3 separate regions of the Homo sapiens genome follow, and all the other regions are linked to region 1. The links come from fine-mapping of genetic effects on gene expression. A gene starts in region 1. Each other region holds a variant in brackets. All regions are shown on one strand. Distances are from middle to middle. Region 1 holds the start of ITGA4 (integrin subunit alpha 4). Region 2 overlaps LINC01934 (long intergenic non-protein coding RNA 1934). Region 3 overlaps LINC01934 (long intergenic non-protein coding RNA 1934).

The links. PIP is the estimated chance that this variant, and not a neighbour inherited with it, causes the effect.
Region 2: its variant is fine-mapped to the expression of ITGA4 in whole blood (TOPMed, PIP above 0.99).
Region 3: its variant is fine-mapped to the expression of ITGA4 in whole blood (TOPMed, PIP above 0.99).

Annotation. Positions count from the first base shown.
Region 1 is chr2:181,452,556-181,462,886 of GRCh38, reverse strand. It overlaps ITGA4 (integrin subunit alpha 4), which reads right to left and starts at 5,501. Exons shown (of 28, transcript NM_000885.6): 1 at 5,036-5,501; 2 at 4,570-4,691. The coding sequence starts at 5,232. RefSeq lists enhancers at 1,628-1,677, 4,455-4,504, 4,865-4,914, 4,975-5,164, 5,885-5,994 and 1 more and a silencer at 5,315-5,704.
Region 2 is chr2:181,345,005-181,355,335 of GRCh38, reverse strand. All of the region lies in intron 3 of LINC01934 (long intergenic non-protein coding RNA 1934), which reads right to left. Among named protein-coding and RNA genes, the nearest start is that of MIR4437, 45 kb to the right of the region's middle. The variant G/A (reference allele first, on the strand shown) is at 5,957.
Region 3 is chr2:181,288,316-181,298,646 of GRCh38, reverse strand. The region is part of intron 3 of LINC01934 (long intergenic non-protein coding RNA 1934); the gene reads right to left. Among named protein-coding and RNA genes, the nearest start is that of MIR4437, 12 kb to the left of the region's middle. The variant T/C (reference allele first, on the strand shown) is at 5,535.

The DNA of each region.
Region 1 (10,331 bases):
CCCACATGTGCAACGGATTTCAGCATCTGACCCTAGAACTGTTGCCAAGGGGATATATTTTCAAGTCATTGGGTATATCACTCAGTGACCAAGTAAACTTAAGGCAAAAACTAAAGTGCATTTAGAAAGCCTCATCTCTCAAATTAGGTGGAAACCTCATCCTTTTGGGACATAAAGTTTGGGAAACTGCTGGAAATAAGGAAACTTCTTTCTGGTAACCTGATAGTTTATTAGTGAAGCTCTCTGTCTTGATTTTCTACATAATTGTATAACAGCCTTCATTCAGGGATGATTTTTCAAAATGACCAATCTGCAATCTCAGCTTCATAAGCTACAATTTAAAGCACATTGCAAATGAAAAAGTAAAAAGTTATCAAGAAAAACATATTTGAAGTTTCAACAGTGAGATATTTGCTATTTAATGTTAAGCTAATAACTCCTATGAATCAAGTAGAAGTGAGGATTAGGTAATCATTAGTTTAATAATGCAATGCTAATTAAATTCTTTCAAATAGGTTATATAATATGAACCAGGAGGCTGGCTAAGGTAATAAAATTTCCAGAAAGAAATCTAAATATGGGTAATGGTGACTAACTTGAGATGGGTCTTTCCTGTAAGAGAGGGACAGGCAGGCAGCTTGAAGGCCCAGTAACTATAGAACACTTAGTCTAGAAAAGAAAGTGAAAGTTCTACTCATTTATGCATAAATATCAGGAAAGCATCTCCTAAAGAGATAGCGTTATTTTTACACAGAGAACTTAATGTTTCTCTACAGCAGTGCTGTCCAATAGAAATATAATACAAGCCCATTGGAAATTTTAAATTTTATAATAGCCACATGAAAAAAGTAAAAATAAAATTAATTTTATTTAACCTAAAATTTTATTTCGCCTAATAAATCCAAAATATTATGTAATCAATAATTTTAAAGTGTTTGTTTCAATATATATCATAAAAATTAATGAGTTTTCTTATACTAAGTATTCAAAAGCCAGTATGTAATTTACATTACAGCCCTCTCATCGCTGACTAGCCACATTTTATGTGTTCAAAGCCACCTGTGGTTAGTGGATACTATACTGGATAGTGTAATTGTATAACTTTAGACTATTACCCAAATGAGAGTTAGTGTGTGTATAATGCTTTCAGTGGTAACTCCAAAGTAATGAAAGATCTGGAAACATATTTGAATAACCAAATAAAGACCATCTTTTTAGTGTAATTTGATAATCATTTCTATGTTTTATTATGTTCTATTTGAATATTGATAGTCCATGGATGGACTATGCTTAACTATATTAATTGAGTCATTATTTGTGACACCTTAATTTAGGAACCAGCTGTGATTAAAGTTTCCTTTAAACAAGCCTGATGATGCAGAGTGCCCGGGTGGAAAGTGGACATGTAGAAATCACCTGGGTCTCCTCAGATATAGTCTTCACGAGCAAGTCTGGGCCCAGACCCTCCTGGCAGAGAGACCACTTTCCTCTGGTACAAAAGAAGTGAGAGAAGAGATGTCTCTTGGGGAGTCAGGGAGGTAAAAGGAGGCCAACAATATATATGCAGGAAGAAAAGCACCTTGCGGTACTATCCAGGCAACTCTCTTGGTGCTGGCTCTGCAGTCAACTTGCTTGACTAAAAGGGGTATCTCATGCCTAACGTCTCTCACCCTGGGCATTCTAGATAAACAGGCAGGCTCACTTCTGCTTATGGCATGAATATACCATATGGGACACCTTGTCCACAGAGGGTAGGGTAGGCGAGATATGGACCTTCTCTTTTGAGGGGAGGAGTCTATCTGAATCAACCACTGATCTGAAATTCTACAGAGACTCAAAGACTAGTCCATGTGGATATTTTTAATTGTGTGGGAGATGGGCACCATTTGAAGACCCTACACCTTCAGGTTCTTGATAGCAAGTAAAGCTATTCCAAAGGAAAGAAGATACCTTACTGACATGGCAATCACAGATCGATCTTTAATCATTATAACATTTTTTTCTTCAGCCAACAAAAATTTCTCATTGTGTTTCATTTCAACTTCTACCTTTTAATGTATTACCTTTTAATTTTTAAACTTTTGGTTCAGTTTATCAATTGTCCCTATTAACCTCAGCCTGCTTGTTACAGATAACATACAGATAATAGATTTAAGTAAACAATAAAGAAGAACCACTATTTTTTGAATGTATTATGTGTCAGTACTGAGCTAAGCATTTTTGAAACATTAGAGTCACCCACATTTGAAACAGGACAACTGAAGCTATTTTATACAGAAGATTCACACACACACACACACACACACACACACACACACACTCTTCTACAGAAGATGGCTTATATATATTTACACACACTCTTGAAACTTCTTCATACAAAATAGTGCATAGCCCACAAACCTAAGAATCCTAAATTATCTTTATTACCAATGTATTGTTTTTAGTGTTTTATTTCTAGACTGTAGCCTCAATCCCTATTTTATAGCTTCAAGCTACCACTGAATTTATTCTGAATAGAGAGGCAGTTTCTTTACATGAGGAATAAAAGATATCTGTATTCTTTAGAATGTTACATGAGAAATAACTTCAGTCAACTCTTCGGCAAATACTCAAGGCATTACTATCACTATTAATGTTTTAACTCATTGACTGACTAGGAATCTTGCCTTTTTTCCTTTCATCCCAGTAAATACCTTGTAGATTGGCCAAAATTTTGAAAGTTAAAAATCAGTTTGGCTCATCATTTCTAATCAATTATCTTACTCATCAGTCAGGTTGATAAATTTTCACTCCACTTTTATTCATTCATCCATCCAAAAGATCTTCATTTAATTCATATCTATGACATATCTACTATGTTTACATTTCTCTGAGAACAGTCAACTCCCATGCTACACATGCCCAAACAATTTTTTCCTTCCATTGACAGGCATTATCTTAAATTTAATACAGTATTATGTCATGATTTATCCAGTTAAACACAGACATCCAGAAATAGATTCAGTGTCCATCCAGACAGGAAGTAGGCACTAAATATCAGTAGTTATAATGTCATGGATCAGGAAACTATGACAGGACAACAGAAATAAAATTGCTCCCTCCTGAGACCTTGCCAAGATCCTCTGGCAGACCAAAGTTGTCGGCTCCACTCCCTAATTCTTCACCCACAACTCTCTCATGCAATGAAAATTATGCTTTGCAAAATCATTCCAAAATGTATGGGTCTGTGAATGTTTTATGCATTCCTACTGTGATTTCTGGTATTGAGGATGCTTAACAAGAGGCTAGGGCTTATTCTACATGCTACAGACAACTCGTAGACTTTTATAGGTGCTCTGAGTTAAAAGTAAAAATTCCATTATGTTTATACTCTATCTGAATTCATCTGAATGAAGGGAACCAGCTTCACAGTTTGAAAAAGAGCAAAGACTACTATAAAATACAAAAGAAGTTAAAGATCCAATAACTAATCTCAAAAGTCCATTTATAGCAAAGAAATATAAAGAAGTACCAATTTTATTCACCGTTTACAGATGACCCATCAGCTCAGCAGACAACATATTAAACCATTCACTTAATTTTATTTGCATTGAAGATACATACATGGAAGAAAATGGCTTAGACTTTGGACGCATTCAGACCCTAGTTTGACTTTAGTTCCCACCTATCAGTCACTAGCTAAGTAACTTTTAAAAAGGTATTTGCAACTCTGAGCCACAGTCCTCATACATAAACTAGGAACAATGTCAACCATGACCCAGGGTTGCTTTAAGGGGAAAAAAGTTAAGCAATATATATAGCAGTAACACTTTGGAACAAGATAGGTCTTGTTATTTAATATTCCTTCCTCTTTCCCCACTTGCCTGTGTGCAACAAACTTGTCTTTGGCTTTGAAACATGAAACTTCTCCCCTCTATCAGTACACATTTTTCAACTTGTCACAAATCTGAGACATTGAGAAATGACTGCAAAAAGATGGACCCATATAACATGAGTTTTGGATGACGGTTTTGGGAATGGAAAATTATACTACATTAACGATGAAGATGCCAATTTTCCTTTTCTTTTAGATTGTATATTGTAAGTAAAACTATCACTTTTTTTTTTAGGCCTTTAGGTTAAACGACGGGATATGGGATCAATTCCAATTGCTATTCCTGATATGCTCCTTAGCCTGTTCTTTAAGAGGGTTGATAGGTCAAAGATGGAAATAAAATTCTCAAGTCTTGGCTTAGCTGGATCCTGTCCTTAATACGCTGAGAGAGTCTAAAATGTGCTTTACACACGGAGAGACGGGGAGAGATGAAGAGAAGGTATCATAAGAAATTTCTCTAGCATAGTTGTCAGAGTACTGCAATCATTGCCATAAGGAAAAGGGAGAACGATATTAACAGAAAGGGAATCCCTTTTATATTAAGGAGGCAAGATGAGATGGAGTTGAAACTGAAAACTTTATGCTCTTTAAACCAGAAGTAACAGGCAACGTGAATCTTTCCAGGACTTGCCCTATGGTGGGGTCCACATGGGGGGTCGGGAGGTCACTAACTCCTGGTCCCATACCCAACTCACCCAGCTGGAGCTGTTCGCACGTCTGGCCGGGATTCTTTCCGATCCTGCATCTGTAAATCGCCCCGGGATTGATCACTGAAGCGTTGGCGAGCCAGTTGGCAGTGGGCGCACCCACTAGGAGCCTAAAGCGAGACACGTGCACGTGCGCTCAGACGTGAGCTGTGCTGCCCACTGAGCTCCCTGTCGCCACAGATGTGCAGTCCGCAGCAGGGCAGCTTCCCCACCTCCTCCTCCGCCCACCACCCCCGACTCGAAGCTCCAAGACCTTGCACCATAACGCACCCGGGGCGCTGCCGCCCCAAGATAAGTTAGTTTCCCTGGCAGATTTCCAGCGAGCTGGCTCTCGCAGCGTTTCCCTCCTGCCTCCTTGGGAGGGAGGAAAGTTTGAATCGGGCAGGGAATCCCTAGGGCGCCATTCTCACGCCGCTCTGAGCTGCTGAGGGCGCATCAGTCCAACTCTACTCACCATCGGTTCGCCCCGTGGCTGTGCAGCACGACCGAGTAGCCGAACAGCGTGTTGTGGGGGCCCTGGTAAAGCAGCGCGCTCTCAGTGTCCACGTTGTAGGGGCGGCCGGTCGGGACCCCCAGGCACAGCAACAGCATCACCGTCTCCCGGACGGCGGCCCTTCGGGGGCCGGGTTCGCGCCTCGCTTCCCAAGCCATGCGCTCTCGGTGGGGAACATTCAACACTAAACGGCCACTACCCCAAAGTTGCACGGGATGCGACGGTTGGCCAACGGGGAAGAACGCCCCAAGAGATGAGGCGCAGCGTGTCCGGCGCCAGCGGGCTAAAGGAAGGAGAGAGGGAAGAGGAGGGGAAGTCGGCCCACCGCGGGCGGAGCGTTCGGGCCGGCCTGGGATGCCGCGCACTCGCCCGGCCCCACTCCCGGTTTCTGCCGCCAGCCGGGAGCTTCGGGTGCTCGCGCTGCTTCTCCGGGTACGGGCCGCTGGGTGGGGTCCCGGGCGTGGTGCGGAGGCGCAGGGCCGGGCTCCGTCTCTGCCTACGCGCGGCTGCAGGGGGCGCTGGGGAACCTCGGCTGCGCAGGACTCGCGTCCTGGCCCGGGCCTCCCAGCCCGCAGAGCGCGGGATGGCTCTGGGCTCAGCAAGAGCGGACCTGATGGGGCACGGGCTTCCCCTTTTAACGGTGGTTGGGGCCTAGAAGCGGAGCTGTGTGACCCCAAACTGCGCGCCCCTCGCTGTGACCGCCCAGCCCGGCGTGGCCCAAATGCCAGCCACAAACTCGGGGAGTGGGACTGCGGCGGGGAGCCGTCCAGTTCTTTCGTTGATAGTTAAACACTGTGTCTTGTTTTTCAGGTGTAGGCAACCACTAGATAAATTATCAAGAGCCACAGATTAAAAACAAAAAACCAAACAAAAAGACTCGCCGAAGGCCCCTGGGGAACATTTTAGTGACAAAGACGTTATGGCTATTCTCTTCAAGACCCACATCTCAGCACCCTTCTATACCCACTTCCTTCCTCCCCACACTTCCTCTGCAGCCCGGGCTGCATGCGTGAGCAGGCTAGCAGCAGCCTCTCAGGCTGAACGGCAGGCGGTTTAGGCTGTGGCTGACCCCAACAGAGAGGTTGGGTTAAGGAAGCACTGTGACTTGATTCACTTTAACCGATTCGGATTGCTCCAGCTGGTAATTGATGATCCCCCCTTTTCACGCACCCACTCAGTTGCCACGGGACACACCTGCTTTTAGGGGTGTAAACCCCAGTGTGGGGTCAGGGTCCTAATGAGCCTCTGAAATGTGCCGGAGACCCACAACGCAACACACCTGAACTGGGTAGTGAGTCTCATTCTAATGCAATCCAGGTGTGCCCTGCCTTTTTTTTTTTTTTCCTTCAGCAACCAGAGAGACAGCCATAGGTGATTATTAGACTGATATTTTCAGGAGATGAAAGTCTAGTTTTTTATTGTTGCTATATGTAAAAAGAAAAGAAAAGTCTGCATCAAAGAGTGTGTCTGTGTGCTAAAACCATGCTGGAATAAATAACACATCTGACACTAATGACAGATACACAATTAAAATGCTTATTCATTTATTCAGCACATTCATGGAGCAGGCACTTGACTAGGACCACAGGATTCCACCAAGAGTAAGGCAGGACTGATACAAAGTTTCAAAAAATGTTCGCTCCAATGGTAGATAGAAAAATTTGTACTAACTAGAGAAAGATCCAGGTAAGGACACTTAAAGAGAGATTTGAAGGACCAGGAATCTTGAATCAGGCTAAGAATGGGATGAGCAATAAGGAGGGCTCCAGAGGAGCCAGGTAGAAGAACTGAGAGAGCTTGCCTGGCTAGAGTATTTAGCCACTCCACACACAGGTTGGTGTGATATGAGGCTGACTTAGGGAAGCAGGAATACATGGTGAACCTCATGAGCCAGGTTAGGAATTTTAAATCTATGTTGGGACTGACAGGAAGTTGAAGAATTTGTCTCGGTCAGCTCTGGGTTTCAGAAGTGTGAATGCAAGACTGAACACAGAAAACCTAATTTTGGAAGCCCCTGCAGCAATAAGTAGAGATAGGATAATCCCAAGGGGAAGTATTTCTCTTTCTTGAAAGAGAATGGTGCTACCATTCATGGAGAAAAAAACACTGAGAAATGAAGTTATATGCATGTATGTGTGCATGCAGATGGGGGCATGGATGGGTTAAGTTTTAGCCATGTGGAGTTTGAGATGTTTATGGAATGACAGGATATTCTAGCCAAACTCAATGCAATTATTTTCAGTCTGTCAACAGACAAAACATGAGGAATATTAACTTTCTCTTACTCTATACTGGAAAAAGTCAATACAGTGTGTGATAAATCTATTGTAAAAATGAAATGGCTTCCAGAAAGCTAACAATCAGGGCCCATGGCTGTTTCTTTCTGTAGTAGTGCTGAGTGTGTTTCTTTCTTAGTAGATCTACATGCTGATTTTAACCCAGTTCCACAATGAGCTTACAGTGTCGTTATTCTGAACTATGCAATCCTTCTTGTTTACAGCTACAAAACCTCCAGTTGAGGCCAAGGAAGTAGGTATGTTGAAGCCATTCTGACACCCTCCAGAAACTGGCAAAGCCAGATCTTCTGATCTGAACCCCTACCAGTTTCTTTCCCTCCCTTCACCAAAATCTTTTACAATGAAAGCCACTCAACACAATTCGTTTCATAGCGTAGTTTTGGTGACAAGCAGTCAGTGGAGTGGTTGGTAAGGCAGGACTTTTTTCCATAGTATGGTTATAGTTATGATTCACTACCTTTCAAGAAATAGCCACCCTACATTACCTCACGTTAGTTAGCTGAATTTCCTTCCTCCAGGGCTTGGAAAACAGCTCGCTTTTCCTAATGTTAGCAGGAATAAAGTGTGTTTCATGTTGCTTTAAAAAAAACTGAAGATACTGCTATCTCTCTGATCAATGCTTCTGAAGGCAAGTGAGGGGGTGGAGGAAGGAGAAGAGAAGGATGTTTAAGAAAGACTCATGCCTATCCCTAGCTCTCAACTCGACATAAATATTTGGGCACTCAATTATTAAATGTCATCAGATTAATATGTATATAAGTGCCCACTATATGCCAAAAAAATGCATTATGCACTAAAATTATAGTAGACAAAATACAAGTGATCTCTAACCTTGTGTAGAAAGTCCTCCCCAGTAGCGAGAATTCTAATGTGGACTCACCCTATTTTTCAGTTTTTATCAAGAGTAAGCATTTCTCCTTCTAGGAAGACTCTCTTCTCATGATACCACCTTATTAAGCTTTTTCCTGCCTTTCTATCTGGCCACTCTGAGTTTCCTCTGATGGCTCCCTTCCCTCCGCCATAAGTGCGGGAAACCCCCAGGGCTATATTCTGGAAACTCTTTCATTCTCTTTCCATCTTCCCTCTTTAGGAGATCTAACCCATTTCCTATGTCTTTAAATACCATCTAAATATAAGTCATTAACAGAATCAAAAACAGAAACGGTATACTTATTTCAATAGATGCTGAGATAGCATTTGATAAAATTCAACATTCCTTTATGATAAAAATTCTCACCAAAATGGATATAGAAGGAACATACTTCAAAATAATGAAGGCCATATATGACAAACCTACAGTCAACATCATACTGAACACAGAAAAAATGAAGGCCTTTCCTCCAAGGGCTGAAACAGACAAGGATACCCCCTCTCACCACTGTTATTCTACGTAGTACAGAAAGTCCTGGCCAGAGCTATCAGGCAAGAGGAAGAAAGGAAGGGTATCCAAATTGGAAAGGAAGAAGTCAAATTAGGTTTGTTTGCAGACTACATGATCTTATACCTAGAAAAATCTAAAGAGTCCACCTAAAAGCTGTTAGATCTGATTCAGTAAAGTTGCAGGATGCAAAATCAACATACAAAAATCAATAGCATTTATATGACAACAGTGAACAATCTGAATAAAAATCAAGAAAGCAGTTCCTTTTACAATAGCTACAAAAATGTACAATACCTAGGAATCAATTTAACTAAAAAAGTAAAATATCTATGCAAGGAAAAACTATAAATAAAACTCTGATAAAAGAAATCGAAGAGGACACAAAAACCCAGAAATATACTCCGTGATAGACTGGAAGAACTAATATTGTTAAAATTACAATACTACCTAAAGCAATTTACAGATTCAATGCAATTCCTATCAAAATACAAATGACATTCTTCACGAAACAGAAAAATTCCTAAAATTTATAAGAAACCACAAAAGACCCTGAATAGCCAAAGCAATCCTGAGCAAAAAGAACAAAGCTGGAGGCATCACACTACCTAACTTCAAAATTTACTACAAAGCTATAGTAACCAAAACAGCACAGTATTGGCATAGAAACAGACACATAGACCAATGGAGCAGAATAGAGAATCCACATATAAATCCATGCACTTACAACCAACTAATCTGTGACAAAGCTGTAAAGAACATACAATGGAAAAAAACAGTCTCTTTAATAAATGGTGCTAGGAAAACTTAATAACTACATGCAAAAAAATAAAATTAAAACTTTCTCACCACTTCTTCCTTTCCAGTTTGGATACCCTTCCTTTCTTCCTCTTGCCTGATAGCTCTGGCCAGGACTTTCTGCACTATGTAGAATAACAGTGGTAAGAGGGGGTATCCTTGTCTGTTTCAGTCCTTGGAGGAAAGGCCTTCATTTTTTCTGTGTTCAGTATGATGTTGACTGTAGGTTTGTCATATATGGCCTTCATTATTTTGAAGTATGTTCCTTCTATATCCATTTTGGTGAGAATTTTTATCATAAAGGAATGTTGAATTTTATCAAATGCTATCTCAGCATCTATTGAAATAACCAATACACCAAAACCAAATCAAAATGAATTATAGACCTGAAATTATGAAATTACTAAAAGAAAACATTGGGGAAATGCTCTAAGATATTGGTCTGGGCAAAGATTTTTTTGTGTAAGACCTAAAAAGCACAGGCAACCTGAACAAAAATAGACAAATGAGATTACATCAAGCTAAAAAGCTTCTGCACAGCAAAGAAAACATCAACTAAATGTAGAGAGAACCCACATAATGAGAGAAAACATTGGCACACTATCTGATGAGGGATTAATAACCAGAATATATAAGGAGCTCAAACAACTCAATAGCAACAAAACTAAAACCTAACAAAGAATGTAATTTCAAAATTGGCAAAAGATCTCGACAGATATTTCTCAAAAGAAGATATACAAATGGCAAACGGGTATAAGAAAACATGTACAACATCACTAATCAT
Region 2 (10,331 bases), 110 kb after region 1:
TTACTATTCTGCCCATTTTACCAGGAAAATAATCTGGTCTCAGAAAACTAAGAACCTTAGCCAAAGTCATCAGCAAGTAAGTTATACAAGCAGTATTGTGTCCTTGAATCTATACTTGTAACCACTGTGCTGCTGATTAGACAAAATAGCCATACCAAGCTGCTAAAGAAACTATTATGTTGTGTTTCCTTCCCAGAGCTCTTCTTAGCTTTAGTATTTTTAAAGATTTAAGTAGTAGAATGACATATCTAAATATAAAAGAAATTAAAATCCCTGTATTAACATAATGTGACTAGACATATTGTATGTCATATGCCTCTGATATTCATAACTTCGCAAAAGGTGCTAGGTATCTATTGTCATTCAGTTCCAGTCTTGGCATATTTTTCCAGTGAAGGGGCAGAGATCTCTCCACTCCAGTGTTCTATACTAAACTTTCATTTTTTTTTTTTTTGTGAGCCCAGACCAGAATCCCACAGACAGCATGAATGATGATTCATTCATGTACTCAGCAGATACCTATTAAGCAACTATTTGGCATGGAGACTGTACCAGTGAACAGATCATTCTTACCCTCCTGAGTTTGTAGTCCAGTAGAGAAGACAGATACAAACATGTACGTGGACATCAGTGTTTTAATGGCAAAGTACATACAACCATGGCTAGGTTGGCTTTCCTGGAATGGTGACGTAAAAGCTGAGCTCTCCAGTCTCAGTAGGAGTTAGCTAGATGAAGGTGGGAAAGATGTAGGAAAAGGGTAGAAACTATATTGAGAAAACTGAACATTTGAAGCTTCAAGGATGGAAAACCGTGATGTTACTATGGTCTGAAGTAGTCTGGTATGGTTGGCACTAGGACATCCAACCAAGAGAAGAAACCGGAGAGGTAATCATAATCCTAATAGCTGATATTCTTCTGGAATCTACCTATTTTAAAAAGTACTATCTCATAAAATATTCATAACCACCCTAAGAGGGAGATATTATTATTACCTCAATTTTTCAGATGAAATAACTTGATCATGGTCTTATCCAGTGAGTAAGCGGCAGAGCTTTGAATCAAAGAGCTCCAGTTCCAAAGCTCACATCCTCCACCAGCAACCACCGCTGCCTTCAGATCATGATGGGCCTTGTAAGACATAATAAGAACTCTAGTGTTTATCCTATAGGTCAGAATTCTCAAAGTATGTTCCCCACCCAAGACCTACTGAATTAGAAACTCTGGGGCAAGGCCGAATAATTCATGAGTTCGAAAACCCTTCAAGTAATTCTGATGTTCAATAAAGTTTGAGAAACTGTGCTAAGGGCAATGAGAAATCCTGTAACATTTTAAAGCAGAGAAATATGACTTAACCAGATGAGATTTTCTGAAAGCTGATCATTCTTTCCACAGGTGATCCCTTCAGAATGAAGACTCAAGCATCCTCATTGCTGCTCTGCACCCACAGTTACACACTGACTCCCCTTGAGTTACGGAGAATGAAGTTAAGAGTAAAGGCCATCCAAAGTGGTAGGACTAATGAGCTACGCAGCCTTCTATTAGGGAGCCCTAACCTGACTGCTAAATTGAAAGAGATAAAAATATCCTTTGTAATCTGATTGCAAGAAAGTGTCCCTAATTGGATGGTTGTGACTTAGATAAATTTTAATTTATTAGGCTTGCTTAGTTTTATGGGCAAAAAGTGTGCATATATAACAGTTGTTGAAATTTATCTTTCTCTTTGAATGAGGTATATTTTTCACTAGGAATAGTTGCAGTAATAATAATGACTAATATATGTACATATACTTCTTAATTTCAAAATATATTCCATGTATCAGAGTTACATAAAATTTTCACTTTTCTAGAAAGGGGCCAAATCATAATATGAATAAAAATATAGTAACTCTACCTTATTCACTGTCAACTAAAGAAAGAGTGCCACAGAATAGTAATCTTTAATTTGTAATCATTTTGTTTCTTTTCAACTAAATTACCCCCATTTCATTAACTTGTAGTAAAGTCTTCTTGCCCTACCAGTTTTTTTAAAATATTTTAATGACCTTTAATAATACTTTTAAGTATCATATTTATACTACTATAATTATATACTGAAATTTCAATTACCCTAGAAACCAGAAATTGTGAAAAACTTTTCTAAAAAGTAATGGTTTAAAAGTTGATTAAAATCACCAATATGAAAATGATTAATAGTGTACATTTTATTGAGGATATATTTGAAAATCTAACAGAGCCAATGACTAGTTTTTCATTTAACTTGACCTTGAAATACTCTTAAGGATACAAAATAAAAAGGACTTTGTCTGATGCCTGCCTCTGCCCCAAGGTGTAAGCAAAGAGAGACTTCCAATTTTGTCATATGGCCAGGGTTCAACATTTCAACATGCTGCACTTTATTTTTAATTCAAGGGAGAAAATATAGGCTTTAAAAAATGTATACAATTTTATATTAATGTCTTCTTGTGTTTTGTATTTAATGAGTCAATATCTCTTTAAGCTAACCTAACAATTTGAAAAAAAAGGAATTTTCATTCTCATTAGCTCATAGATATATACGATAAGCCAAAGAGAAGTGACCACTCAAGGCCACACATTTGCTTTCTTCTACCTGGAATACTCCCCACTCTCTCTCTCCTTCCTCCCACCCTCCCTTCCTACTAGCTCTTCATGACTCAGTCTTAACACCATTTTTTCAGGTGACCCTTTCCAGACTACTGAAATCTATCATCCCTTTCCCACCAAACCAGGATAGATTCCTTTAAGCTCCCATAGTTATCTGTCCCTCTTTATCTGTCCAACTTTTGTAATAGTTGGAATTAAAATAGTAAAAAATAGTAATTGAATGTCTGCATCTCTTCTAAGAGTGTAAATTCTAGTAGAACAGGAAGAGACACTTCTGACTTGTTCCTCATTATATCTTCAGCAAGTAGTATTGTGCTTTGCATAGAAGGGCTTCAGTAGATACTAGTGGAGGGAGGGTGAGAAGCGGGGAGGAAAGAGGGTAGGAGGGAAGGAAAGAAGAAAAGAAGGAAGGATGTTGCAAGATAAGAGCTCCAACAGAAAAAAAAAAGCACATATTTGTGTTCTAAGCTAAACTTTCATGTGACTAAATACCACTGTATTTGGCTACATGAACTCAAAATATGCTGGCTTAACCAACACCTCCATGATTAGGTGAATTATTATATGTTTATTAATGATAAGTGAATGGAGACATAGTTATTCACTTAAACACAAAGTGAAGTGACTAAAATATATTTTGGAAATCATCACATGAAAAAGGATATTTCTGAAGGAGACACATGGCATATACCTCAGAATGGCCAGAGAAAAACCACTTAGTTGTGGGAGAAATGGTCTAATCCATCCACACCACTGAGATGGATCATTTCCAAGTGGAGGCCTCTCTGATCTGGCTGTGGCTCCTGAAGGAGACATGCCTAAGATAAAGTGAAATGGGGATTGTGGAGAAGACACCTGTGTCTACTTCATCTGCCTGTTTTTGCCTAGCTCTACCAAGAGTGGACATTGCTTTCTATTTTTTCTTAGCTCTAAAATCAACTCCTGGAAGTTTCTGCCAAAGAGTCAACTTTTCACTCAAAATTTTGAGAAGTTTTACTAATCATCTATCAACCTCATTCAACAAATACTTACTGACCACCTACTGTGTGCCAGATAGTGTTCTAGATATTTAGGATATCTCGGGAACAAAATAGAATCAATAGACGTGGAGCACTGTTCTGAGACTGACAATAACTACTAAATATATAAATAGTACTAAATGACAGTAAGTACCAAAATGTATAAAATGTGATCTCTGCTCTCAAAAAGTTTACAATCTTGAATGGGAGGCAGGTAATAGTTGATAAACATAAAAATGGTGACCTACCACAAGGTAGCACATGAAGACTCAAACCTTTTAGATGTTGAATAGATGAGTTTTTGTCAGGGAAGAGACAACTTTGAATGTGGGGGTCAGGGGAAGCTCCACTAAGGAGCTAAGTCTTGAATGGGGACTCAGAGCCAAGTTTAGAAAAGCAGGGAAGGAAACTTGGGGAGAAAAGAGAAGTGTGGAGGCTCTCTGGAATCTCATGTATAAGAACTTTTCTTGAAAATTGTGTACTGTCTACATTTACCAGTTGAGCACCTGCTGTGTACTGAATAGTATAATAAACTGTGTGGTGTATGCCGTCAAAGAGAAATTGCACTCTCCAAAGTTTATGAACAAATAAGGAACTTAAAAAAATGTACATTAGTCACTAAACTACAAAGTAGAAAGTTCAAAGAGTCATAAATAAGAGAGGTGCTGAAAAAGTTCTATGGCAGTTTGGTGGAGGGAGACATTACTAATAGCTAGTGATCAGAGAAGACCTCATGGAAAATAGTTAGCATTCAACTGGGCCTTAAAATTTATGAACATGTGAAACGGAGAAAATGACTTAAACACAGAGTCAAGAAAGGAGCCTGATGGACTAGCAAAGAAATCAGAAATGGGAAAGTCATTTAAAAGGTTATTGCAGGGTTGGTATAGATGAAAAAGACCAAAATATTTTTTGACTGATTGACTTTAACTAGCAACACATACTTTCTTATTCTTCTACTATCTCTTATAAATTATTTCATTATAATATTTGAATCACCAAGTCATAATATGCAATTTTCTTTATTATTTAACATTTAGCATTTCCATCCCATTAGGAATTTTCTTGCTTGATTTTTATTTATTTATTTATTTATTTATTTATTTAATTAATTTATTTATTTGGACAGGGTCCTGCTCTGTTGCCCAGACTTGAGTGCAGTGGCTCCATCTCGGCTCACGGCTCACTGCAACCTCCGCCTTCCAGCCTCAAGCGATTCGCCCACCTCAGCCTCCTGAGTAGCTGGGACGACAGGCACATGCCACCATCACTGGTTAATTTTTGTTGTTTGTGTTGAGGTGGAGTTTCGCCATGTTGCCCAGGCTGGTCTTGAGCTCCACAGCCTCCCAAAGTACTGGGATTACAGGCATGAGCCACCATGCCTGGCCTGAATTTTTTAATCTTTAGGTATTTTTGAGTCCACATTCCATCATCAGATTTGATTACTGTCATCATGACTATTTAATATTATTTTTATTATTACAACCTGATTTTTGACATACATTTCCTTAAATAGTGGTTAATGCTCATTTTAATCTATTTTCACCTTGTCTGTTGAAGCCCCTGTATCTGCTTCATCACTGGGCCCACCTAGACTTAGTATGTTACATATATAGTTCTAATGATTTATTTTAAGCTGTACTGTATGTGGCGAGTTATTTATGTTAAATAATCAGAATAAAACAGTAAAATATAAAACACTGCTAGAATTGTATTCCAGCTATCTTATGTTCTATTTCTGATAGTTACACTAAAGAGAATTGTGTAAATTATCCTCCTGGTTCTCCTCCCTGAGGTCAACTTCAAAAGGTTAAGGATATACTCATAGTAGTATAGTTGTCCACAATAAATTCTGTCTACAAAAGGGGCTGAGTGTGTGCTACCTAAATGTTGGTGTGTGGTGTGAGAGTGACCTTGACCATGTGTGTAAGCAATTATTATTATTATTATTATTTTTGTCAGCGCACTAAAACTTTTGCTGGTCTCACAGTAATCATATTCTCATCTGTTTATGTCCACAATGGCAGGATATTTGACACCCAGAGCCAAAGTGGGAGGGACTGAGCACAGATTGAGCAGAGGTTTTGGTGGCAGAGGAGCTTGCTGCCTGAGTCCCCTCTGCCTCCTTTTAGCCCCAACTACTCACAGCAGTCCTAGAAAAGCTAAGGCAAAGAGTAGAGGAAGATATAGGATTCCCCACTCTCTTCTGTCTATCCATTCTTTAATTTAAAAAAAAATATTCATTGATTATCTACTTTGGGCTGAGGCCATAGCATGAGTTAAAAAACTTCTGCCATGAACCTTGACTGCATATC[G/A]TTTATAATTGAGTGGTGGTGACAAATATAAAATGAATCATTATAGGAGTCATTATACCATTATAATTGTGTCAAGTGCTACAAGGTGAAAGTGCAGAGTGCTATAGGAAAGCAAGGATAGAGTGCTATGCTTAAGCAGCAACCTGTTCCCCAGAACAGAAGAAAATAGAGGCAGTTTTGTTTAAGCATAATGATTGTCAGAATAAGTGATAAAATTTTATTTTCTTAGAATAAGTGTGATATAGGTAAAATTATAACAATGGCAAAAAATTTAGAAAACTGGTGGCTATTTAATAAACTATGCACAAAATCTTGTTATTCTAAAGGATGACAAGGAATCCATGGAATTTCCCCCTATAATCTTTTAATAGTACATATTCCACACAAAAGAAGGAATTTTCATCTGAAATCTTATGCACCTGTGTGGCTAGTCAATTATTCACAAAACATCATGGATCTGATATATATTTTCCCTACTTAATTTTGTTAGTCAATTTGTAATGCTAAATAAAATATGCACGAGAACCTTAAATTTAGCATGGCAGATATTTTCTGAACATTCACTTATTCACTTACTGTGGGCTATTTAGAAAAATCAGATGTGCACACTGATCATCTTAGCACATGTCCATCTGTCATCTAGAATTGCCAATAAATATATTGTTTAAATAGTTGTGGTTAAGAATAGAGACCCTGAGAATGAGAGAAGCTAGGAGTAGGTTATATAAATAGTCACAGAGCTACACCAAGATAACTTCCAGGTCAGCCACAAAATTATAATGACAGGAGTAGCCCTTGATTATTTGTTCATTTGCTCCATTTCTATGGATTCTTGAGGTACATCTTGTTGTATATTATTTCTAAATAAATGAGAAAAGGGGAAGTTAGTAAATGCACATCACTGGAACCAACTTAATCTCAGAAAAAAAAAAACTCTGAGTATAAAAAAAAGTCTTTTTTTTTTTTTTTTTTTTGTAGAGCAGTTTTAGGTTGAAAGCAAAACTGAGAGGAAGGTACAGAAATTTGTCACATACTCCCTGTCCCCACCCATGCATAGCCTCCCCCATTATCAACATCCCCCACCAGAGTGGTATGTTTGTTACAATTGATGAAAATACACTGACACATCATTATCACCTAAAGTCCATATTTTAAATGTGCACAGTCACACAGGATGCATGTTTAGACAAATGTATAAGAATGACATGTATCCATCATTATACTTCATACAGAGTATTGCCATGGTCTGATAAATCCTCTATGCTCATCCTATTCCTTCCCCAACCCCCAAGTTTTGGTAACCACTGATCTTTTTTATCATCTCCATAGATTTGCTTTTTCCAGAACGTCAGACTGCTGGAGTCATACACGTATTCCTCACTGGCAGATATGTAGCCTTTTCAGATTTCCTTCTTTCAGTTAATGAAAATCGTGTAAGGCTCTTCCATGTCTTTTCGTGGTTTGATAGCTCATTTCTTTTTAGTGCTGAGTATTCTTTCATTATCTTTTTCTGTTTTTTTTTAAATTTTATTTTCCAGTATTCTTTCTACTTTAGTTTTTTTTTTTTTTTTTTAATACTTTAAGTTTTAGGGTCCATGTGCACAATGTGCAGGTTAGTTACATATGTATACATGTGCCATGCTGGTGTGCTGCACCCATTAACTCGTCATCTAGCATTAGGTATATCTCCCAATGCTATCCCTCCCCCCTCCCCCCACCCCACAACAGGCCCCAGAGTGTGATGTTCCCCTTCCTGTGTCCATGTGTTCTCATAGTTCAATTCCCACCTATGAGTGAGAATATGCGGTGTTTGGTTTTTTGTTCTTGCGATAGTTTACTGAGAATGATGATTTCCAATTTCATCCATGTCCCTACAAAGGACATGAACTCATCATTTTTTATGGCTGCATAGTATTCCATGGTATATATGTGCCACATTTTCTTAATCCAGTCTATCATTGATGGACATTTGGGTTGGTTCCAAGTCTTTGCTATTGTGAATAGTGCCGCAATAAACATACGTGTGCATGTGTCTTTATAGCAGCATGATTTATAGTCCTTTGGGTATATATCCAGTAATGGGATGGCTGGGTCAAATGGTATTTCTAGTTCTAGATCCCTGAGGAATCTCCACACTGACTTCCACAATGGTTGAACTAGTTTACAGTCCCACCAACAGTGTAAAAGTGTTCCTATTTCTCCACATCCTCTCCAGCACCTGTTGTTTCCTGACTTTTTAATGATTGCCATTCTAACTGGTGTGAGATGGTATCTCACTGTGGTGTTGATTTGCATTTCTCTGATGGCCAGTGATGGTGAGCATTTTTTCTTGTGTTTTTTGGCTGCATAAATGTCTTCTTTTGAGAAGTGTCTGTTCATGTCCTTCACCCACTTTTTGATGGGGTTGTTTGTTTTTTTCTTGTAAATTTGTTTGAGTTCATTGTAGATTCTGGATATTAGCCCTTTGTCAGATGAGTAGGTTGCGAAAATTTTCTCCCATTTTGTACATTGCCTGTTCACTCTGATGGTAGTTTCTTTTGCTGTGCAGAAGCTCTTTAGTTTAATTAGATCCCATTTGTCAATTTTGGCTTTTGTTGCCATTGCTTTTGGTGTTTTGGACATGAAGTCCTTGCCCATGCCTATGTCCTGAATGGTAAAGCCTAGGTTTTCTTCTATGGTTTTTATGGTTTTAGGTCTAACGTTTAAGTCTTTAATCCATCTGGAATTGATTTTTGTGTAAGGTGTAAGGAAGGGATCCAGTTTCAGCTTTCTACATATGGCTAGCCAGTTTTCCCAGCACCATTTATTAAATAGGGAATCCTTTCCCCATTGCTTGTTTTTCTCAGGTTTGTCAAAGATCAGATAGTTGTAGATATGAGGTGTTATTCCTGAGGGCTCTGTTCTGTTCCATTGATCTATATCTCTGTTTTGGTACCAGTACCATGCTGTTTTGGTTACTGTAGCCTTGTAGTATAGTTTGAAGTCAGGTAGTGTGATGCCTCCAGCTTTGTTCTTTTGACTTAGGATTGACTTGGTGATGCGGGCTCTTTTTTGATTCCATATGAACTTTGAAGTAGTTTTTTCCAATTCTGTGAAGAAAGTCATTGGTAGCTTGATGGGGATGGCATTGAATCTGTAAATTACCTTGGGCAGTATGGCCATTTTCACGATATTGATTCTTTCATTATCTGGAGGTATCACAGTCTATTTATGCATTCACTTATGAAAGAACATCTTGGCAACTATGAAAAAAGCTGCTATAAACATCTGTGTGCAGATTTTTGTGTGGGCATAAGTTTGAGTAAATAGTAAGGAGCCTGACTGCTGGACTCTATGAGAAGAAGATTCTTAATTTTGTAAGAAACCACCAAACTGTCTTCCAAAGTGGCTGTACCATTTTGCATTCTCAGCAGCAATGAACAGAAGTTCTTCTTCCTCCACATCCTCACAGCATTTGTTGTTAGTATTCTGGATTCGGGTCACTGTAGTAGGTACATAGTGGTACCTTACTTTAATGAAACTCAGATTTTATGAGCTCCTCTTGGTTACCCACTGGAAGTGGAAGCTACTTTTTCTCAATATGTTCTTTAGTTACATTTGTTGAAAAGCTGAAACTAGACATATTATTATTGCTGGCTGCTATCAGCCTCTTATGTGCAACCTTCCAGTGAGGAACCAGGAAGTCTTGCTCCACAAGAGGGTGTTCCTAAATTCCAAGCACCCCTGGCTGATACTCCTTTCTTGGCTATAAAAGTTGGCTAGTGAGAGAGGCCTGGTTGAGTCAGAAAGGAAACTCTTCTTGTCTCAGTTAGGGTCTCCAGGATAATGAGTGTAGAGGGAGCAGAAGTGTTTGGAATTTTCCTGTTCTTGCTACACCTGCCATTATGATCAGAGAGAGTAAAAAATAAAACACGAGGCTGGGCACTGTGGCTCACGCCTGTAATCCCAGCACTTTGGGAGGCCGAGGTGGGCGGATCACAAGGTCAGGAGATTGAGACCATCCTGGCTAACACGATGAAACTCCATCTCTACTAAAAATACAAAAATTAGCCAGGCGTGGTGGTGGGCGCCTGTAGTCCCAGCTACTCGGGAGGCTGAGGCAGGAGAATGGCATGAACCCAGGAGGCAGAGCTTGCTGTGAGCAGAGATCCCGCCACTGCACTCCAGCCTGGGCAACAGAGCGAGACTCCGTCTCAAAAATAAATAAATAAATAAATAAATATATAAATAAATAAATAAATAAACATGAAACCCCTCTGAAAAAGGGGTTAATCTCAGAAAAAAAACTCTGAGTATAAAAAAAAGTCTTTTCTTTTGTAGAGCAGTTTTAGGTTGAAAGCAAAACTGAGAGGAAGGTTGCTTTAAGCAGAAATAA
Region 3 (10,331 bases), 160 kb after region 1:
TTCTCTGTCCTAAATGTTAAATGATTTTTAAAATTTAAAATTTAAATATATTTACTTTCTATTTAATGTCAAATATTGATCAGCTAATTTGTTATAAATATTCCACTTCTAGCTTCCCACAGAACTGTTTATATGGCATTTTTTGTACTACGACTTAACAGTTTACTTAACTACATTCCTTTGAACCAGCACCTCAAGAATTAGGAAGTATACAGTTCTTTAAATGTTTGGTAGAGCTCTGCAGTGAAGCCATTGGTCCTGGGTTTTTCTTTAGTGGAAAATTTTTTTATTATGGCTTTGATTTTGTTACTTGTTATTGGTCTGTTCAAGTTTTAGGTTTCTTTCTGGTTCAATCTTGGTAGGTTGTATATGTCTAAGAATTTGTCCATTTTTTCTAGATTTTCCAATTTATTGGCATATAGTTGCTCATAGCAGCACTAATAATCCTTTGAATTTCTGCAGTGTCTGTTGTAATGTCTCCTTTATCATTTTTGACTTTATTTATTTGTATCTTCTCTCTTTTATTCTTAAGTCCAGCTAAAAGTTTGTCAATTTTAACTTTTTTAAAAAACAAGTTTTTGTTATATTGATTTTTGTATTTTTTTTTTCATTTGACTTTTATTTATTTCTGCTCTGGTCTATTATTTCTTTTGTTCAAGTATTTTTGGGTTTGGTTTTCTCTTGCTTTTCTAGTTCTTTAAGATACATCATCAGATTGTTTATTTGAAGTTTTTCCTCTTTTTTGATGTAGGCACTTATAGCTATAGACTTCTCTCTGAGTACTCTGTTATATTCCATAGATTTTGACATATTGTGTTTCCATTATCTTTTTTTCAATAAATTTTTCAATTTCCTTCTTAATTTCTGCATTGACTTACTAGTCATTCAGGAGCATATTGTTTAACTTCCATGTATTTGTATAGTTTCCAAAATTCCTCTTGTTATTGATTTCTATTTTATTCCATTGTTGTCAGAGAAGATGCTTGACATATTTCAATTTTTTGGATGTTTTAAGACTTGTTTTGTGGCCTAACATATAGTCTATCCTTGAGAATGATCCATGTGGTGAGGAAATTAATGTGTATTCTGCAACCACTGTATTAAATGTTCTGTAAATATCTATTGGATCCACTTGGTCTGCAGTGCAGATTAAGTCCAATGTTTATTTGTTGATTTTATGTCTGGAAGTTCTGTTCAATGTGAAAGTGAGGTGTTGAAGTCTCCAGCTATTATTGTACCGGGGACTATCTCTCTCTTTAGTTCTAATAATGTTTGCTTTATATAGCTGGGTGCTCCAGTGCTGGCTGCATATATATTGCTGAATTGACCCCTTTATCATTATATAGTGACCTTTGTCTCTTATAGCTTTTGTCTTTAAATCTATTTTATTTGATATAAGTACAGCTACTCCTGCTCTTTTTTGGTTCCTGTTGGCATGGAATATCACTTTCCAACCCTTTATTTTCAGTCTATATGTGTCTTTGTAGGTGAAGTGTGTTTCTTGTAGACAAGGGGTCAATGGGTCTTGTTTTTTCATTGATTCAATAATTCAGCTTTTCTATGTCTTTTGACGGGAGAGTTTAGTCCATTTACATTCAATGATATTGTTGATAAATAAGAACTTACTTCTACCATTTTATTAATTATTTTGTGGTTTTCTAGTCTTCTCTTCCTTCCTTCTTTCCTTCCTGTCTTCCTTTAATTAAGGTAATTTTCTCTGGTGATATGATTTAGTTTCTTGCTTTTTTATTTTTTGTGTATCTATTGTATGTTTTTTGGTTTGAGGTTACCATGAGGCTTAAAAATACTATTTTATAACCCATTATTTTACCCTAACAACTTAACACTGTTTGCATAAACAAGCAAACATATAAACAAAAAGAAAACTAATAACAACTCTATGCGTCAACTTTGTCCTTCTCCTTTTTAACTTTCTGTTGTTTCTATTTATGTCACATTGGACTATGTCTTGAAAAATTTTGTAGTTAATATTTTTGATTGGTTAAGCGCTCTTTCTACTTAGGATAAAAGTATTTACATACCACACTTAACAGTGTTCTAATATTCTCTGCTTTTCTATGTACTTACTATTACCAGTGAGTTTTGTATCTTCAGATAATTTCTTATTGCTCATTAACATCATTTTCTCTCTAATCAAGGAACTTCCTTTAGCATTTCTTATAAGACAGGTCTGGTGTTGATGTTAGCTTTTGTTTGTCTGGGAAAGTCTTTATTTCTCCTTCATGTTTAAAGATTATTTTCATTGGATATACTACTCTAGGGTAAAAGTACTTTTTCTTCAGCACTTTAAATATGTCATGCCACTCTCTCCTGTCCTGTAAGGTTTCCATTGAAAATTCTGCTCCCAGATGTATTGAAGCTCCATTGTATGTGATTTGTTGCCTTTCTCTTGTTGCTTTTAGGATCCTTTCTTTATCCTCGATCTTTGGGGGTTTGATTATTAAATGCCTTTAGGTAGCCTTTTTTGGGTTAAATCTTCTTGGTGTTCTATAATCTTGTACTTGGATATTGATATCTTTCTCTAGGTTTGGAAAGTTCTCTGTTACTATTCCTTTGAATAAACTTTCTACCCTATCTCTTTCTCTATTACCTCTTTAAGGTCAATAACTCTTAGATATGCCCTTTTGAGGGTATTTTCTAGATCCCGTAAGCATGCTTCATTGTTTCTTCACTCTTTTTATTTCATCTCCTCTGACTGAATTTTCAAATAGCCTATCTTCAAGCTCAAGAATTCTTTCTTCTGCTATCAATCAGCTATTAAAGGATTCTGATACATTCTTCAGTATGCCAATTGCATTTTTCAACTCTAGAATTTCTGCTAGATTCTTTCTAATAATTTGAATCTCTTTGTTAAATTTATCTGATGGAATTCTGAATTCCTTCTATGTGTTACCTTGAATTTCTTTTAGTTTCCTCAACACAGCTATTTTGAATTCTCTGTCTGAAAGGTCACATATCTCTGTTTCTCCAGGATTGGTCCCTGGTGTCTTATTTACCTCAAATGGTGAGGTCATGTTTTCCTGGATGGTGTTAATGCTAGTAGATGTTCTTCAGTGTCTGGGCACTGAAGAGTTAGGTATTCACTGCAGTCTTCACTGTCTGGGCTTATATGTACCCATCCTTCTTGGGAAGGCTTTACAGATATTTAAAAAGACTTAGGTGTTTTAATCTAAGCTGTAACTGCTTTAAAGGGCACCCTACCCTCAGTAACGCTGAGGTTCTTGCAGACTCGTAGAGGTACCGCTTTGATGGTCTTGAGCAAGATCTAGGAGAATTCTCGGGATTACCAAGCAGAGAATCTTGTTGTCTTCCCATACTTTCTCCCAAACAGAGGCCCTCTCTCTGCTCTGAGTCACCTAAAGCTAGGAGTGAAGTGACAGAAGCATCTTTGTGGCCATGACCACTGTGGCTGCACTGGGTCAGACCTGAAGCAAGCACAGTGCTGAGTTTCACTCAAGGCCTGCTGTAGTCACTCCCTGGCTACTGCCTATGTTCCCTCTAGGCCCTGAGGCTCTACACTCAGCAGGTGGCAAAGCCATCCATGTCTGCATTCTTCCCTGGGTCCAGAGGTGCTCTTTGGGAGTCAGGGACTAGAGTCAAAAACCTTAGAAGTCTACCTGGTATTCTATAGTACTGCAGCTGAGCTGGCACTCAAACCACAAGATGTAGTCCTTTTACTCTTCTCTCCCCTTTCCAAAGGCAGAGGAGCCTCAACCCTTAGCCACCACCACCCAGGCCATGAGGACTACTGCCAGATTACCTCCAAAATTACCTTAAGGCCCCAGGGCTCTTAAGTCAGCTTGTGGTGAATGCTGCCTGACCTAGGACTCACACTTCATGGCAGTGGGCACCCTCTGGCCCAGGGCAGGTCCAGAAATGCCATCCAAGAGTCAAGACCTGGAATCAGGGACCTAAGATCCCACTTGGTGCTTACCCCACTGTGGCCCATGCTGATACCTAAGATGTAAGACAAAGTCCCCTTTACTTTTTCCCTCTGCTTTTCTCAAACAGAAAGAGTTTTGCCCCATAGCCACCACAGCTTGTAATGTGCCAAGTCTCATCTAAAGCCAGTAAGTCTCAGAGGCTCATCTAATGCCGTTGGTGTAGCACCTGGGTGTCACTGCTGCTTGTTCAGGTCCCAAAGGCTCTTCGGTTAGCAGGTGATAAATACTGCCAGCACTGGGCCCTTTCCTTCAAGGCAGCAGGTTCCCTTCTGGCCCAGGGTGTGTCTAGAAATGTCGTCTGAAAGCTAGGGCCTGGAATGGAGGCCTCATGACTCTAACCGATACCCTGTCTTGCAGTGGCTGAGCTGGTCTCCAAGAGGCAAGACAAAGCCCTCTCTACACTTTCTGTTCCTCTCCTCAAGCAGAAGAAAGGAATAAAGAGGTCTCTTTTGGAGCCGCTGTGCAACCTGGTGTTAGAGGAGGGGTGATGCCAGCGCTCCCTTAGCCATCCCAACTGATGTCTCAGTATGTCCTGTGGCCCCCTACCCCACCCAGTCCACTGTCTCTGGGCCCAGTTCAGCCCTAGACTCGCATGAGAATTGCAGTCTTTATGGCTTAGGCTGCTTTTCAAGTTTACTTGGAGACAGAGCACTATAGCTCGCAGTGGTGAGGTTTGTGGGAACTCAAGTTCAGACCACTGGGATTGGCAATTCCCCTCTGGCTAGTGCTGGTTTAAATGTTCCCTCCATGGGCAGGTGGCAGCTGAGTTAGGTCCTGTTTTCCTTTGTGCCTTAATGGGACAGTGCTGAGTTCAATGCCTCACAATTGCTGTCCTCTCCTTCCTCCAGTGCCCAGATATACTACCTGCACCACATCGCTGCTGCTGCGGTTGGGGAAAAGGTAGCATCAGCGATTCAGGACTTTTTGTGTTTGTTTGTTTACCTCGTTAGTGCCTCTTTCAGTGATATGAAGTTCCAGCCAGGTGCTATGAGTGCTCACCTGATTTTTGGTTCTTATAAAGGTGTTTTTTCTGTGTAAATAGTTGTCAAATTGGTGTCCTTGTCTGGAGTAGGGCGATCAGTGGAGACTTTTATTCTGCCATCTTGCTCTCCTTCCTTTGAAATTCTTCAAGAATTAGGATGTATACCTAGACTGCCTTATTCATCTTTACAAATACAACATCTAGGAAACTACTGAGTTTATAATAGGCAATAAGAAGTGTTTGCAGCTAAGTGTACTAGAAATAGTAGACCAAATGGTCTACTATAGAAAGGCAGTATGTAGAGTGATTAGAGTATAGCTTCTGGCAACAACTAACTATAGGTTTAGTTCTCAAATCTGTTATTTTCTACCTGTATGATTTGGGCAAATTATTTAGCTTTTTTGAACTTTAGTTTTCTTCCTTATAAGAAGGGGAACGTAATCTGCACCTTTGAGGGTGACATGAAGATTAAATGAGAAAATGCATATAAAACATTTATCATTCAGTATAGTTCATAGTAAAGCTCTCAAAAATGACAGAAAAAATATGAATTTAAATAAAAAATATTTCTGAAAGTAGGTTTTTTT[T/C]TTCCTATTCTTTGTTGTTAAAAGGGAACTGGACTTTTGGTTCAAAACGGTCTACTGAACACCCAGGTGTATTTCACTTCTTTCCAATGATGCTATTCAGTGACAGTGAAGATATACTAAAAAGAACAAATCTGTAGATAGTGCTGAAAATAAGAGTGAGTGTGTCATCAACAAACAGCAGCTTCCTAAACTATGTGGAAATCTGAAAGCAAATGGGTTCATATCGATGTACAAGCCACAGAGGAACTTTATCCTGGAAAATGTACCTGAGCAAGTTACACCAAAGACGTGAGTAATTCTAACCCATGGAGCTCCCAAGAGCTCTAAATTTGGAGATGAAACGATGGAGTCAGAGATTACATAATAAGGAGAAGAAATTGGAAATATAAGTGTTAATATATGTGTAAACATTCAGGAGTTACTGCATTTTGAAATCTGAAAATATGACTATCAAATTTTTTAAATAGTAAAAGCTGAATAATAAACTTGGCATGGCTGAAGAATAAATCTGCAAGATTAAAATAATAACTAAAATTAATATAACAGAAATTGGAAGTGGCAGGAAAAGTTTTCCAAAATCAAAACCAATATTTTCATTTACTTAATTATAATATACAATGTCTGTAGCTCTGTGTTATTTTTTGCAAAACCCAAACAAAAAAGTTCTAGTTTATTCACATACAACATTGTTTGCTATTATAATTATTTATACTTTCAACTTTGTTAGATAATCTATTATCATAAAATGGTATCGGGGCATCACTTCCAAATATTGGACATCCTATGATAATTGGTTTTTAGGGAATATCTTCATTGGTTTCTAAATATTTTGCAACATCTCCTTTTATCTTAGGGTAGAGTATTTCTATATCTCTTTTGTGCTTTGAGGTAGCACACCTTAAAACAAACACTGGTAAGTAATAGATTCTTTTATCACTTATAAATGTACTGAAAATTAAATATTCATCAATCTATATCCCTTGAAGTATACAAACAGGTAGCCATATAAACCAATCTATGTTAGTTAATGGTTTTCTTCTGTAAATTGCGACTTGCTTTAGGTGACTATTTTATTGTTAAGGACAATAAAAACATTTCAGAAACTATTTAAAAAATCCATTATCACTCCAGGTCTGTAGAAATCAATGTATAGATTAAACTTCATCATTTTTATTTACATGGAGAAGCAATTAATCATTAATAATTACCTAGTTTGGAACTGTAACCATTTAGAACGTTTAGTTCTTTTCATTGCTATGCCTAACCCAGGATCAAAATGGGAACATGGATTTAATTTTACCCTTTATCCTAGGTCTCTGGACACATATTTACAACCCCCAAATTATAATAGATTTGAATCCTATAATTAAAATACAGCCCCAAGAAAGTTTCCAAGCAGTGTCACGCAAAGAACAAAAAAAGAGATCTTATTTCAGAGCAAGATAAAGAAGAAATCTGAAAATCTTTATTTTCTTGTGTTTACCAAGCCAAGCCAAGCAAAAAAAAGAAAGAAAGAAAGAAAGAAAAAGTAGAGCAAAAATTAACATTAAGTAAATGGAAATAAAAATAGAAGCATTTTCAAAAACAATCTCAATTTGATATAAAACTTTGTGAAGACAAAGATTTGTTGTGACATTCTAGGTTTGTTAATTCCAATTTGCTAATTTTTGATGAGATTGTGGAGGCAGAAGTCATGAATACCAAAGTGGAGAGAAGAGGGACGGTGTCTGGTTTAAAGAGCATCGATGGGGATGAGCTAGTGCTTTAGATGAATCATAGTTTAGGGAAAGAAAGAAGAATTTAGTATAAATAAAATTCTCTTACTTTTTCTACCTAGCATCTCTTCGTTTAAAACTCAAACCCCACCCACAGCATTCCTGCTCAGACCGGTGGTTTGGATTGGGTTGGCGCCAACCTGTATGCCCTCCTTTTCCCTGGCCTAACTCAAGGGCCACACTGGACCTAGCCAAATAGAATGCTTCTTTCCCTTTGCCATGAAGATTTGTTCAGAGGGGAGGAAAGTAACCAAAGCCGATCTTTTCCAAGAGTTTTGGCAGGGATATCTGCAGAGATATAATTTCAGAAATATTCAAAAACCATACAAAGAATTAGAAAGATATCTAAAAGGACATAAAGGAAAAGTTAAATACATGAAAAGGCATAGCATATTTGTTATGGGTAGGAAGATTCAGAATTGATAAGATATTAATTGTCTCAAAATTAATTCATAGATATTCAATATTTTGACCAAAAACCGAAAATGGTTATTTTATCTGAAGGCATAAATGCATGGGCATAGTTCTCAGATGAAACAGATGGGTGAGATTTTAGCATAAAAAAATAAAGTTGTAAAAGTAATGGGAAAACCATAAGAGTAAGTATTATCTAAGTCTTGAAGTAGAAAGCTTTCTAATTTGACATCAAAGGTTATAAAGCATAAAGAAAAAGAGAGTTGACACATATCTGCATGGAAGAATATACCATATAATATAAAAAATCAAAAGACAAGTGATAAATTGAAGAAAAAAACTTACAACCTATGTGAGAGAAATGGAGTTTATATTCATAATATGTAAAGAAATAGCACATACTGAAAGCATATAAAAATTTCACAAAAAGAAATGGTTACATGACATGGAAAGGCAATCTCAAAGAAAACCAATGACTAATAATCACATCAAAGACAATTGACAAAAATGCCAGTTAGTTCAATCATGTGATATCATCTGTCATTCCTCAGAGTAGCAAAGATGAGAAAGTACGAGTAATGCCAAGTACTGATGAGAGTAGAAAGAAATCAGTTTTCTCATATTTATTGGTTTTGGTAGTATAAATTTGTTCAATATTTTTGGAGGGCAATGTTTATTTTAACATTGTCATTTTTGCAAAAATAAATTTAAACCATGAAATGACCATCTAGCAGAACTTGTTAAAACAAATTAAGATATAACAATAAAATGAATGCAAAATATTCATCAACATGCATGAGAGATCTATATGATTATATGTGAAAAAAAATCCCTGCCACAGTATAGAGTAAAAGGCATGTTACCAAAAAAGTTATAAGACCAAATATGCAATCGAGTCACCTATAAATTATAATTAAGCTTACATCTATTTAGTGCTTATCATGTACCAGGCACTAAACTACATACCAAGTGCTACAGATGCAAGCATACACATATGCAAGCACACATCCACACATACATGTATACATATACATCCAATTTTTATCTTTGTGAAATAGGAAAGCTGGAGTAGAGGGTGGGTGGAGAAGGAAAGTAGGGAGGTAGGGAGGTTCAAGAAGAAGTAAGTTTCAGCAGGATTGTCTGAATTTTTTTAGTATGGACATACATTTGCTTTGTTATCAGGAAAAAATTGATCAAGATATTTCCGTTTTGAGAGAAAGCGAGAAAAATATGTGATATTTTGTTCGTTCACCAAAAACATTACTCATTATTTTCACAAGACTAACTATAATTTTGATATGAGCCACTTTACCAAAAATAGTGCCTTGTTCGTCTTGGTATTTCATCTTAGATTTTTCACTTGAAAAGTTATTAATACATGGTGGCTCGATTGAATGACAAGTTACTTTTATCAGATACTTTTGGGAATGATAAGGTTTTGTAGGTTGATTCTAGTTTCCATTATGTTAAGAAATTAATATTATAAAAATATGCAGTTTTAAAAATATATGTTTTTCTTCATAAAATACTTATTTTCAATAATATACAAAAGCACAGTTTCAGTTTTTATGAAAACTCTTTGGATATTTAATATTTTAAACATATACACAATATTTATTCTGCTGCCTTTAGTGGAGTCAAGTTCAAATATTTCTGTACATGACTTCAGTGCCATATTATATTGCATAAATATATGTATATTGTTTATTTATATAAATTATATAAATATTATATTGCATAAATAAATATTTATATTATTTAATTATATAAATAATATAATATTTATAAAATATTTCATATTATAAATATTTATAATATCATAAATATAAATATAATATTTATATTATTTATAATAAAATAAATAATATTAATATTTATATTAATTTATATTATTTATTTAAATAAATAATATAAATAATATTTATATACATATAAAATATTTATTTATATATTATTTATATAAATATAAATAAATATTTATATAAATAATATAAATAAATATTTATATAAATAATATAAATATAATATTTATATAAATAATATAAATAAATATTTATATAAATAATATAAATATAATATTTATATAAATAATATAAATATAATATTTATATAAATAATATAAATATAATATTTATATAAATAATATAAATATAATATTTATATAAATAATATAAATATAATATTTATATAAATAATATAAATATAATATTTATATAAATAATATAAATATAATATTTATATAAATAATATAAATATAATATTTATATAAATAATATAAATATAATATTTATATAAATAATATAAATATAATATTTATATAAATAATATAAATTAATATTTATATTATTTATTTATATCATATCGTAGTTTATACTACATATTATACACAAGCATGTACACACACACATATTTTGGATACCTTGAACATATATATTCTGAAATGGATATATTCCAAGATCATATAAGAAAAATAATTTGTTTTACAAGAATGCCTCCAACAAAGAGGCACTGGGCCATCGCTTCCACCATGCTGTTTTAGGATATATTTGGGCTCACAAACACATAATTAAAAGCTTTGTAGGGTAATAAAACACTTTGACTCTAGGGG